2 separate regions of the Homo sapiens genome follow, and region 2 is linked to region 1. Evidence: fine-mapped expression QTL. A gene starts in region 1. The other region holds a variant in brackets. All regions are shown on one strand. Distances are from middle to middle.

The links. PIP is the estimated chance that this variant, and not a neighbour inherited with it, causes the effect.
Region 2: its variant is fine-mapped to the expression of SPNS2 in cerebral cortex (GTEx, PIP above 0.99).

What each region holds. Positions count from the first base shown.
Region 1 is chr17:4,496,325-4,501,682 of GRCh38, reverse strand. It overlaps SPNS2 (SPNS lysolipid transporter 2, sphingosine-1-phosphate), which reads right to left and starts at 2,802. Exons shown (of 13, transcript NM_001124758.3): 1 at 2,266-2,802. The coding sequence starts at 2,635. It overlaps SPNS2-AS1 (SPNS2 antisense RNA 1), which reads left to right and starts at 2,948. Exons shown (of 3, transcript XR_001752763.2): 1 at 2,948-3,532; 2 at 3,968-4,141. RefSeq lists enhancers at 1,368-2,002, 2,003-2,638 and silencers at 2,680-2,729, 2,790-2,939, 2,950-3,009.
Region 2 is chr17:4,533,639-4,538,996 of GRCh38, reverse strand. SPNS2 (SPNS lysolipid transporter 2, sphingosine-1-phosphate) reads right to left here. Exons shown (of 13, transcript NM_001124758.3): 9 at 5,144-5,209; 10 at 2,823-2,921; 11 at 2,571-2,734; 12 at 2,051-2,097; 13 at 1-1,544. The coding sequence ends at 2,055. It overlaps MYBBP1A (MYB binding protein 1a), which reads left to right. Exons shown (of 26, transcript NM_014520.4): 26 at 1-93. Among named protein-coding and RNA genes, the nearest start is that of MYBBP1A, 19 kb to the left of the region's middle. The variant A/CCA (reference allele first, on the strand shown) is at 2,565.

The DNA.
Region 1 (5,358 bases):
ATTCCTAAAAACTGAACTTGGGGAAGTGGAGATGGGGAAATCTACCATAGAGAGAGGGGCAACCAGGCTTATCCGGAGAGGAAACCTGTGTCTGTTGTGTGTTGGGGGTGGGGTGGTGTGTGAGCTCCCACTCCAGGCCAGGAGAGGGAGGGAGGCACAGCCCAGGCAAGTGTTTGCACAGGACTTTCCGGGCCTTCCTCCCTAACTGCCCCACGCCCCTCTTAGCCACCACTCCCCACCTCCCTTTACCAATTCACCACAAATTTCCTATCTCATTCCCCCATGCTGACAATCTGACTCAGAGACCTGAGTAGAAGTGGGAGCAGATAAGTGCCAGCCCTCCCTGATCCCACCCTCTCTGGCTCTGCCCCTGGCAGAGGCAGTTCCCCTAAGAACGTCAAAGGGGGTGGTCTGGGGCCAGAAAAAAAACAAGTTGGAGAGCGCTACAGTGCCAGAAGTAGTACCATTCCTTCTTCAGCTGAGAAAGGGTGGGAAGACCTCCTCCCAGGCAGAGCCTTACTGTTAGAGCTAACACCAGCTTTGCCAGTCACTTTCCTGGCCATCTTGAACGGGGGCTGTACAGGGACATTGGTCCCCCTATCTGTGTACAGAAGCCTTTTGTGAACTGACTACAGGTCCCAGGTATTCTCTGATTTCTCCCCCAAAGGATGGCGCTTATGCTCCCAGGTCCCCGGCAGCATGGTGCATGCGTGACAGCGGCTGGCGTTTTTGGGAGGTGCTCAATATTCCTGCTCTCTAGACCAAAGTAAGTTTCTCTTTGGGATAGCTCGACCCAGAAACTGATGCCACTGGTACCCACTTCCAATTTCCTCCAGCGGAAGGACAGAGAGCCAAGGGGGGTTGAAAGCAGGAATGGGGGGAGGGGGAAGCCTCTGCCCTCCCATCAGAATTCTTCCCTTCCATTTGACACAAAACTCCATTCAACAGACGGGGAGACTGAGGCCCAGAGAAGGCACCAGGTGGCATGTGGTTTATGCCCGGGCTCTCTTCCCTCAATTGCCGCAAAGTTCTCTTTAGAGTCTGTCCAAAAATAAATCCTTCCCTCTCTCCTATCTCCTCTCTCTCTCTGTTGTGTGTGTGTTTGATAGCTCCAGATTTTACTAAGCTATAGTTACGCAGGTTCTGGGCCAGCATGCCAGGCACACAGTACTGCTCTCCTCCTGCAGGGAGCCCCTTCCTATGCCAGTCTGGCCAAAGTCCTTCCCTCTCAAAGCTCCACCATTCCCAACCAGTAGCAGCTCAGTCTAGGGCAAATTCTTACCCCTAGACCCACCCCTAATTGCTGGGGAAGGGAGCCAGCAGAAGGCAATTCCAGAACCACGTGCGTCCCCCAAAGGCCCAATGATCAATCAACTCACAAACGGGCAAACAGACCTAAACACACGCTGAGACTGGCCCAAGGTCACACACCAAGCACATTAGGAGCAAAGCTGGGGCTAGAACCCAGTTGTTCTATCGATCCCAATCCCGTCCCCAAGGCTGATTCCCAGAGATGCTCCCTGAGGATGAGGCTCCACGTCTCTAGCTCCAGAGGCCTGCGCCCTACCCTACACCCCAAGCACCATAGAGCAGGGGGAGGCGTCTCCAGGCCTCTGTACAGGGCCAGCTGCAAACCGCAGCCTGGGTCCCCAGGCGCCGCGGACCCGCCCCGCCCCTCCCTCCGCTCCCCGCAGCCCGGAGCCTTTGTCAGCCACGCGCTCACACACAACCGCGCCGCCACGCGCACACACACCCGGTCTCCCTAGCGCACACCCGCAAGGGGCGCGCGCACTCGCCGCACGCACGCAGGGGGGTGGAGGCGGCGGAGAAAGGAAGGAACTGACGGGCCATGGACGGACAGACGACCTGGGCTGGGGGAAGGGAAGGGAAGGAGGCCCGGGAACCGGCAGCTGGGGTCGGAGGGGGCGCAGAGACAAGGAGACAGAGAGACGCAGAGGAGACTCTTGGAGAGGAGGACAACGGATGGGCCGTCAAGGGCTGGAGAGGACGCGCGGGCTGCTCCAGGGGTGGGGACTCCTCTATCCCTTGGCCCCGGGTGTGTATGAGCGGGGAGCTGGATTGTACCCGTGGTGCACGGAGGCATCCCTTGCCCAGTTGTGCCTGAGCAGAGGGTCCGTAGGGACCTCACGTAGGGCCTGGAGATAGCAGGCCTGAGACCAAAAGCTCTCTGGGGTACCTCCCTCGAGGCGGGTGGTGGGATGGGGTGGGGTCTTGGTCCTCGGGCTGGGTGGGGCACTCGCTCACCTGCCACGGTGTACCTGTCCAGGTAGTTGAGCACGTTGCCCAAGCTGAGGATGGCGGCGGCTGCCCCCCGCCCGCGGCCCAAGCTGGCCGGTTTGGGCTGCTGAGCGCCGGGGCCCTTTGCAGTAGCTGCGCAGCCGGGGGTGCCGGGGGTGCCGGGGGGTCCGGTCGGGGCCCGCCTTACGCTGCCCGACAGCGTCTGCACCTCATCGCCCGCGGCCGAGACTCCAGCGCCGCCCGCGCCCCGCGCCCCGCAGCAACCGCTACCGCCAGCCCCTCGCTGCGCCCCCCGGCGCCGGCGCCGCCGCTCCGCGTCCGCCTCCTCCTCCTCCGCGCCGCCCGCCGCCGCCGAGGCGCATTCCAGGCACATCATGCCGGCCCGGATCGGGGCGGCGGGGGGCGCGGGGGGCGCGGGGCCCAGGCTGGGCCCGCTCAGCGCGTGCGTGCGCCGCGGAGCCGCCACTGCACCATCCTGGTCGGGCCCCGTCGGCTCCTGCGCTCCGGCCCCGGCTGCGGCGCTGCCACCGCTCAGCTCGCTGCGCCTCGTTCGCCGCCGCGGCTCTGACAGCTGCGGCCCGGCCCCGCCCACCAGGCCCGCGCCCAATCAGCTCCGGGCTCGGGCCACAGCCCCGCCCCGCACGTGCTGCCCTGGGGGTGGGGGGCCCGGGGACTGGGGGCCCGGGCGGCAGAGCCCCTCCTGCCAATGGGGGCGCAGTCACGCCGGGGCCGACCGGCCGCGAACGCCCGCGGGGAGCGGGAGAGGGTTTGCTCTGGCTACGGAGCTGGGAGCAGGGTGCTGGTGACGGGGCTCCCAGCACCTACTCAGTACCCTTCACCCAACCCCTGCCTCGGGCGTGGACTCCCGGCGGAGGCTCTGGGAGCCGGGCTGAGGGCTTGAGCCTAGCGTATCTGGGAGAACTGGAGAGAGGAGTCTCAGATGGCTAAAGTCAGGGGCGCCAGTTGGAGAGCCGGTGGCTCCTCCGATACTCACACGCCCGGATTTAACCAGTTCAGGGAGGGCCCAGAACCTAGACCTCCACCAGTCATGGTGGGCTGTGTCTCCCACCTCCCCAGGGCAACCCAGATCCAGCCCCCAACCTACCCCGGGCCCATTCCTGTGTGGGCACCCGGACCCTACCCTTGCCCCACAGAGTGGCCCGCAGCCCCTGGCGGGGAGAGCAAGGGCTGTGATTGGGGCCCAACAGAAACAGGATATTCAGAAGGGGCTTTCCCTCCTGAGGGACCACATCTCCAAGCTTCAGACTTCCAGGTATGTGCTAGAGAGGGTACAAAGCCCCCAGTGGCAGACAGGAGGCTGGGTCCTAGCTCAGCTCTGCCCTGGTGTGTGGCATGATCCTGAACATGACACCCACTCTCTGGGCCTCCATTTCTGTATCTGGGGGCAGATGGCAGGATGGGATTCAGTCTGGAAATCCACGGGTGGTCACCTCCCCTTGGTGGGACGGGGCGGGGGTCTGCCTCCTATGGAGAGTGGTTGGGGTGCTTCTGTGTTCCTGACATCCCATCACGGTTTCACCCCTCCTTAGAGGTGCTGTGGCTCTGTGACGATCTCCCCCTTCCCTCCCCCATTCACCTGTTTGGGGAATTAAAATCGAAATTAAAATCCTGTATAAAGTGCAGAGGACAGAATGTTAGAACTGGACAAACCCTCGGAAACCAGTTAATCATTCCCTGTGTTTCACAGACAAGTCCCAGGGCACGGACGTGACCCATTACGAACAGGCAGTGAAGCTGTGGCAGGGCTGGAGCTGCCCCAGGCTCTGGCATCATCCCCGAGGGCTGGAGCTCACTCCCCGCTAGAGGCTTTTCCGGACCCCACGTCCACAGGCAGGTGCATCTGGTGAAGCTTTCGGCCACAGTGAGTCATGGCATAGCCAACGGGTGACACAGCACGAGGCACCCCCCCCGCCCCCCTCCACTGTCTCTTGTGAGCAGAGTTAATCCCCAAGCTGGTGTTTCTTGGCGCCTTCGAGGTGTATTTTAAATTCTGCAAAGTGACTAAAAATATGCTTCAGCGTGCTGGGTATGAATGACTGTGACGGGAGGGTTAGGAAAACAGATTTCATTCTCAAAGTTGCCTGCTGCCTCTTTCCAGCTCGCTGAGCTCAGGCCTGCAAAGGCGGATGGGGGGAGTTCCCCATGGTGGCCTGGCATGACGGGTGATTAACAAACAAGGACAGAGAGCTAGGAGCTCCGTGGGGCTAGAACCCGGCCCCAGCAATGATCTCGTAAGTGTGTGATGGTGCCAGCAGGTGGACAGAGTCCAGCTGTGGGAGGCTGCCCAGCTGTGGAACTGTGTCTAGTGGTGAAGGAGGCACAACCACAACTCTAGACCCAAGCCCAGGGTCCCCTTCCCGTGCCCCAAAACTCCTCATCCCTTTGGCCACAGTCCTGTCCAGGTGGACACTTTCGGCCTTGACAGAAAGGGGAGCATTCTCTTTCTGCTGCCTTCCCTTTTCACCACTGGGAAGGTCCCAGAGCAGGGGAAGAGGGTGGCATGAGCCTTTCAAACCTGGGGGACCTCTGAGCTGCCACCAAGCAAGCCAGCCCTTCCCACTGTGTTTCACTGGGGTTTCAACTCAAAGGCAGCCTCTAGAATAAGTCCTTGTGTGGGATAAGGGGCCACCAAGGGCAGAGGGACAGGGAGGACAAGAAGCCCTTTCTGGTTGTGCAGCCCAGGACAAATCCCTACAGCCTTCTGAGAAGCTCTGGCAGTAACCTGGGGCTGTCAGACAGAGGACTGGTAGGGTTCTTTCCTCCATCTCGCCAATGAAGAAACTGAGGCCCAGGGAAAAGAAGTAATTTGCCCAAGGTCGAACACCTGGTAAATGACAGTGCATGGACTAAACCCAGGTGTGTTTACCCTCTAATCCAGCACTTCCTCCACTGCACGCTGCCCTCAGACTGGGCGGGATTCTGTTTCTTCATCAGTATAACAGGAGGCTGAACTCCGTGGCTAAAGGACCTTCTGATATTCATTCATTAGGTCTAGATCACAGCTTCAAAACAAATGGGGGCCGGCGTGGTGGCTCATACCTGTAATGCCAGCACTTTGGGAGGCCGAGGTGGGTGGAT
Region 2 (5,358 bases), 37 kb before region 1:
ATATTTGGCTTCTCTCTTAAGACTCTGAGATTCACAATCAGCAGCTCTAAAAAATAAAGGAGCAGTTTGGCTTCCGGAAGGAAGAGGAGGCAACACTCGGACCTGGTTCTTGTACAACAAGAAAACATCGCTGGGGCCCCGCTGAGGCTGGAGTGGGGGTGGAGGCTGGTCTTTGGAGGATGCCACCCCCACCCCATCCTCTTGTCAGGCCCTCGGGGTACCCCAGAGCTTGGTGGGTGAGTATTCCACCTGCTTACACACCACTGAAGCCACAGCCAGCCAGTAACTAAGGGGCAAGAAGAGCATTGTCCAAGCTGGCTCTTGGGGGGTCCCCCATTGGCCACAAGGCCTCACCCCCCACCCCACCCCCGCACCAGAACCACCTTGATTGCAGCAGAAGTGCAGGGAGTGGGTGACGCAGGGGGCTAAGCTCCCCCAAAGCGGGTTGGGGCTGGTGTGAAGTTGGCAGCTGCATCCTGGTGTGTGCATGGATGGGAGGTGGGTGATCGAAGGCCTGGCCCCCCCCTGGGGTCACTTGGTGGAATGCCAGCAGCCAGTGTTTGGGTAGGGGCCGCCTCTCCCGGGGCCTCAGCCTCAGCTCTGGGGCAGGAAGCTTTGTGGATAGCTGCTTCCTCCAGCAGCCGGAGCCCTGGCTACTGCCCCATGGATTCTGGGAATGGTCTCCTGGGCCCTGCCCCTGGAAAAGGCTCAGCTCAGCCTCGGGGAAGGAGTGGGGTCCTGGCTTGGGGGGTGGTGGCAGGGAGAGAAGCCCTGCAGAGTTGGGCTGGTGTGCACCTGCCAGAGACCTTGAGCCTGGGGGCACAGGTGGTGTACAGCTGCAGCCAGGGCCTTCACCCCTGGTGATGCCAGCTTGTCAGAACAGTCCCCATCTGGGACCTCCAGGCTGGGAGCCAACCCGAGACAGTGAGACAGTGTCCTCCAGGGAGTACCCAGAGACTTGGGCGCCCAGCTTCATTTGCCAGGTTGCGTCCAATATCCCCAAGGTCCGAGGCCCAGCTGAGCAGTGGTCCCTGCATACCAGGCCCTCGCGTGAGCCTCAAAGCCGGGACTGCCGCCCTGAGGCCTGGGCCACCTGCTCTCCGTATGGTCCAGGGTCTGTTGAGTCTTCAAAGCTGCAGATCGTGCTTTGCCCAGCAAGTTGTGTGGGAAAGTCCAGCCCCCTGGCCCTTCGTTCCAGGGAGGGCAGGGACTTGCCCAAGATCACATAAGCTGGTGGCAGGCCAGGCTCTCCCCGGACACCCACTTGGGGCTGTCTTCTTCCTTGGCCCCAGGGGCCCTGCGGCCCAAACCTAGGGCTGGGAACCTGTCCAACCGTGTGGCTCCAACACACACATCCTTCCAGGGTAACTGAGGACACAGCCTCTTCTTGATGCCAGGGCCACTCAGCAGGCCTGGGCCAGAGAGGGTGGGTGCCTAGCCGTGGATCACACAGAAAGCTTTGGGGCAGCCCAGCCGGTCCCGGACGCTGTAGGACACCTCCCAGACGAGGTGGGAGTGTGGGTTCTTCATTGTCCCAATGGCACCTGGGGAAAGGGGTGTCAGGTCAGCAGTGGGGCTTAGTGGGGCCTGTGCCAAGGCTGCCCTCCCTCCTTCCCTTTTCTTGCTGTTTGGAGACGCAAGCCTTCTCCTGGACCTGCAGCTGTGACCCTGGGTCTCGTGCTGCTGGGAAGCTATAACTCCCAGAGGGAAGGGCCAAGGAGTCAGGCCCTGGTACATCCAGGAGGATTTGGGAGAACAGAAGTCCGGACAGAGTGAGGAGTTCCTGGCCAGTCCTGGCCCTGATCTATGCGAGGCCCCACCCAGCCCTTGAAAGGAAGGAAAGGGGAGCTAATTTACTGGAAGGAGCAGCCTGCTGTCCCACCCATGGCTCCATCAGTAAATTCTGGCAACATCTTCAGAGACAAAGCCCAGAGTTGGTGGGATGTGCTGGGGTAGGAGGTGACTCTGGAGGAAAAGTGCTCCCTGTTGCCTAACCCTGGCCTTCCCCTTTCCTTAGGGAGCCCCCACGTGCCTCCCGGCCTGCACTCACCACCTCAGACTTTCACAGATGCGGGCGGCATCGCCAGCTGGTTCACCCTGGGGGAGAGACGGGCGGGGGTCAGGGTGGTGCATCAGCGGGGGCCGGGCCCGGGCACTGCTCTGGCACATCGTGTCGTGGGGGCCAGCTGACCGGAGGTGCTGGGCAGGGACCTCGTCAGCCCCAGGGGGAGATGGGAGAGCCCAGGGGTGGGGAGAGGAGAGAGAGAGGAGTAAAGAGGAAAGGAGAAAGAAGTCAGAAAGTAAGAGGAAGGGGAGGGGCCCCAGCTTTGAAAACCACTAAGTCCAGAGACAAACCCAAGTCTGGATCCACCAGACACCCCCGTGGCCTCCCACAGCTCCAGGCTGACCCTGGCACTGGGCCTCAGGGCTGGACCCCAGCAACCAGTGGGTGCACTGAGTGCATGGGAGGTCTGTACCCTCCCCGCCCCACCCCAGGGCAGGGCTCACGGTGGCTATCACGGTCCCTGCTTCCCGGCGGTGCAGCAGGGCCTCCCCTCCCCCCC[A/CCA]CTCACTGCTGCTCAGCCCTGGCGCGGTCGCTGACGAAGAAGAGCGCAGTGGCGAGGAAGAACATGCCGCCCAGGACCACGACGAAAGGGCAGAGCATGAGCGCGTAGCCCAGGCTCAGGAACTCCCAGAGCGGGGAGTCCTTAGTGCTCTGGCGGATCAGGTCTGAGATCTGCGAGGATTTGGGGGTGGATGTCAGGGCAGAGCCCTCCTGCAGTCCCCCAGCCTGCCCTGGCCAGCCCCACCCCGGGGCTACTCACAAAGCCAATGAGGTAGGGGCTCCCGGCGTCCCCCAGCAGGTGGGAGGTGAAGCTCTGCAAGGCCACGGCAGTGGCGCGCCGCGTGGGGATGACCACGTACTGCGGAACAGGCGGGCAGGTCAGCGGCCAGAGGAGAAAGGCTCACGCGCTTGGCCCTGGCCCCGGGCCGTGGCACTTCTGAAGCCCCCACACCCTCAGACTCACTCCTGCCCTACGTCTTGACACCTCTCTCCCCTGGGCCCTGCCCTCCTCCCCACAGTCCCCTCTACTGCCCACCCCACCAGCCTGGCTGCTTCTCTCCTGCCAGTCACCCTTCTCCTCCCTGAGCCCCTCCCACCCACACACAGCTGCAGTCACCCTCACCCCAGGGGCTTCCACACCTCCAACCCAGACCACTGCGACCTGCCCCATACTGAAAGCGTCATTGGCCTCAAACCTGCTGTGCCCCCAGCACACCCCTCTGAAATTGGAATCTTCACCTCCCTCCCAGCTACATGCAGTTAAGGAATGATACTTTGGGGGTTGCCCAGGCGCCAGTCACTAGAGGCCATTAGCCCAGAGCCCTCCGAGCCTCGGAGTACCCGAGCCATCAGGAACGGCCATGCTGCTGCCTCTCCAGCGCGGCTCCTGCTCCATTCCTGAGACCAGGGTGCCTTGGCTTCTGCCCTTGGACCTGGGTCACGGGGACACTGAGGTCTAGAGAGGCACATGTTCCCGAGGGAACCTGAACCCCCGCCACAGCCATTTGTCCTCACCTCCCATCAAGCTAAAGACCCATCTTGGTTCCCCTCCCTGAGGACCAAGCCAGGCCTCGACTGGCCTGGGACAGGAGCTGGTGAGGCAGGCCCCTGCCTGCAAGAGCCTCCGCTCGCACCCGCGGGCACCCTCAGCACCAAATGCCGGCACTGCTGGGCCCCAGACCCCCATCAGACCAAGCAGGCCCCAACCTACAGGAGGTTGGCTTCAAAGCTGGGCAGGCCAGAGTCAGACAGGAGGGGCTGGGGTGGGGGCGGGACAGGCACAGCCAGCTCTGTGGGTGCCCAGGCAGCCCCTGTTCCCCGAGCTCCAGCTGCCTCGCCTCTTTGGAGTGCCAGCCTTAGTGGGCATTGTGTGCAAGCAACCAGCACCCACGGGGCACCCCGTTGCGGGAGAGGTGGGGGGCGGGTGGAAAAGGGCCTGAATCTGATGAAACGAGTGGCCCTGTTTCCAGCAGGAATAAACTGTTACACTTAATAAACCGGGACGCGATTTCCCCGGGACCCTGACCCTGCCGGCAGCTGTCAGGCGCTCCCTGGGGGTGGAGGCAGGAGAGGGGGTCCTGCCCAGCACCAAGAGCACTTAATCTGCACGGACTCCTCCCTTCACTCTGGGCCTGTGCAGTGACCCTGGCGCACCCCTGCCACCGCCTGGCTCCGTGCTGAGGCTCTGAACTGCGCCAGGCCTCCCCACCACCACCGCAGCCCATGGACTCGGGAGGACACAGAGCCACCCCAGGGGGAAGCGGATACGCCCGGAGGCTCAGGGTGGGGTAAGGCAGGCTTCCCGAAGTGCAGGGGCCGCAGTGCCTGGCACACTCATCTCCCGGGCTGTCCCATGCTGGGGCACCCAAACCCGGGCACCCTGAGAATCCACCCGAGTCCTTCCTCTCTGCCCCAGAGCCTGCCCTGACACCTCCCAGACACTCTCTCCTGTCCCCTCCTGACCCTGGCCAGGCTGACCCTTGGGCACAGGACCAAGTGTCACACTCACCCCTGCCACGCCCAGAGGGCCATGAACTCCTAGCTCCACTCCTGGCTCCTCCCAGGGTGCTCCCATCCCCACCCAGGGACACAAGCCCCTGCTGGCCGCTCAAGACAGCCCTTTGTCCCCAGCTGGCTGGGCTAGAGCCCATTGTTGGCCCTGTGAAGACAGCCTCTGTCCGCCCAGCCCCAGCCGCAGGCACGCCTGGGAGCCAGGCTGAGTAGAGAGGGCAGAGCCTATGGATGCTCAGACCCAGCGGGGGGAGGAGGGCGGGCAGGCAGCGCCACCTCAGTGCCAGCCTGGCACCGCCAGCCTCCCAGCCACTAACCTGAGCCTCGAGATGCCCCCTCCCCCTCAGTCTCCACATGGTGCTCTGTCTGCCTGCCCAACCCTGTTTTCCAGCCCTGGCCAGAGGCAGACCCCAAACTCTCTGATCCCCTCCCTGCCTCTGGGTTCACGTTCCTGGCAGGCCTGCCTTCCTACCAGCTCTCCCGCCCCTTCACCCGCCCTCCCCAGGCACCCCTGTGAGGTCAAGAGGCCTGGGTCAGCAGCACAAGGTGACCTCGGCCTGCCTGGCTCACCATGAGGATGTCTGCAGTGATGGCCCAGTTAGAAAACAGCAGCGTCTCCCCGACGAAGATACAGATCTGCCGGGGAGAAGGCAAAGCCACCATCAGCGGTCCCTCCATCCGCAGCAACCACAGTCTCTGTTCCCTACACACTGGCTGCTGGCAGGGAGCCCACAAAACCTCACACCCCTCCCGGGCCCACATCCATTCATGGGCTATCCAGAGAC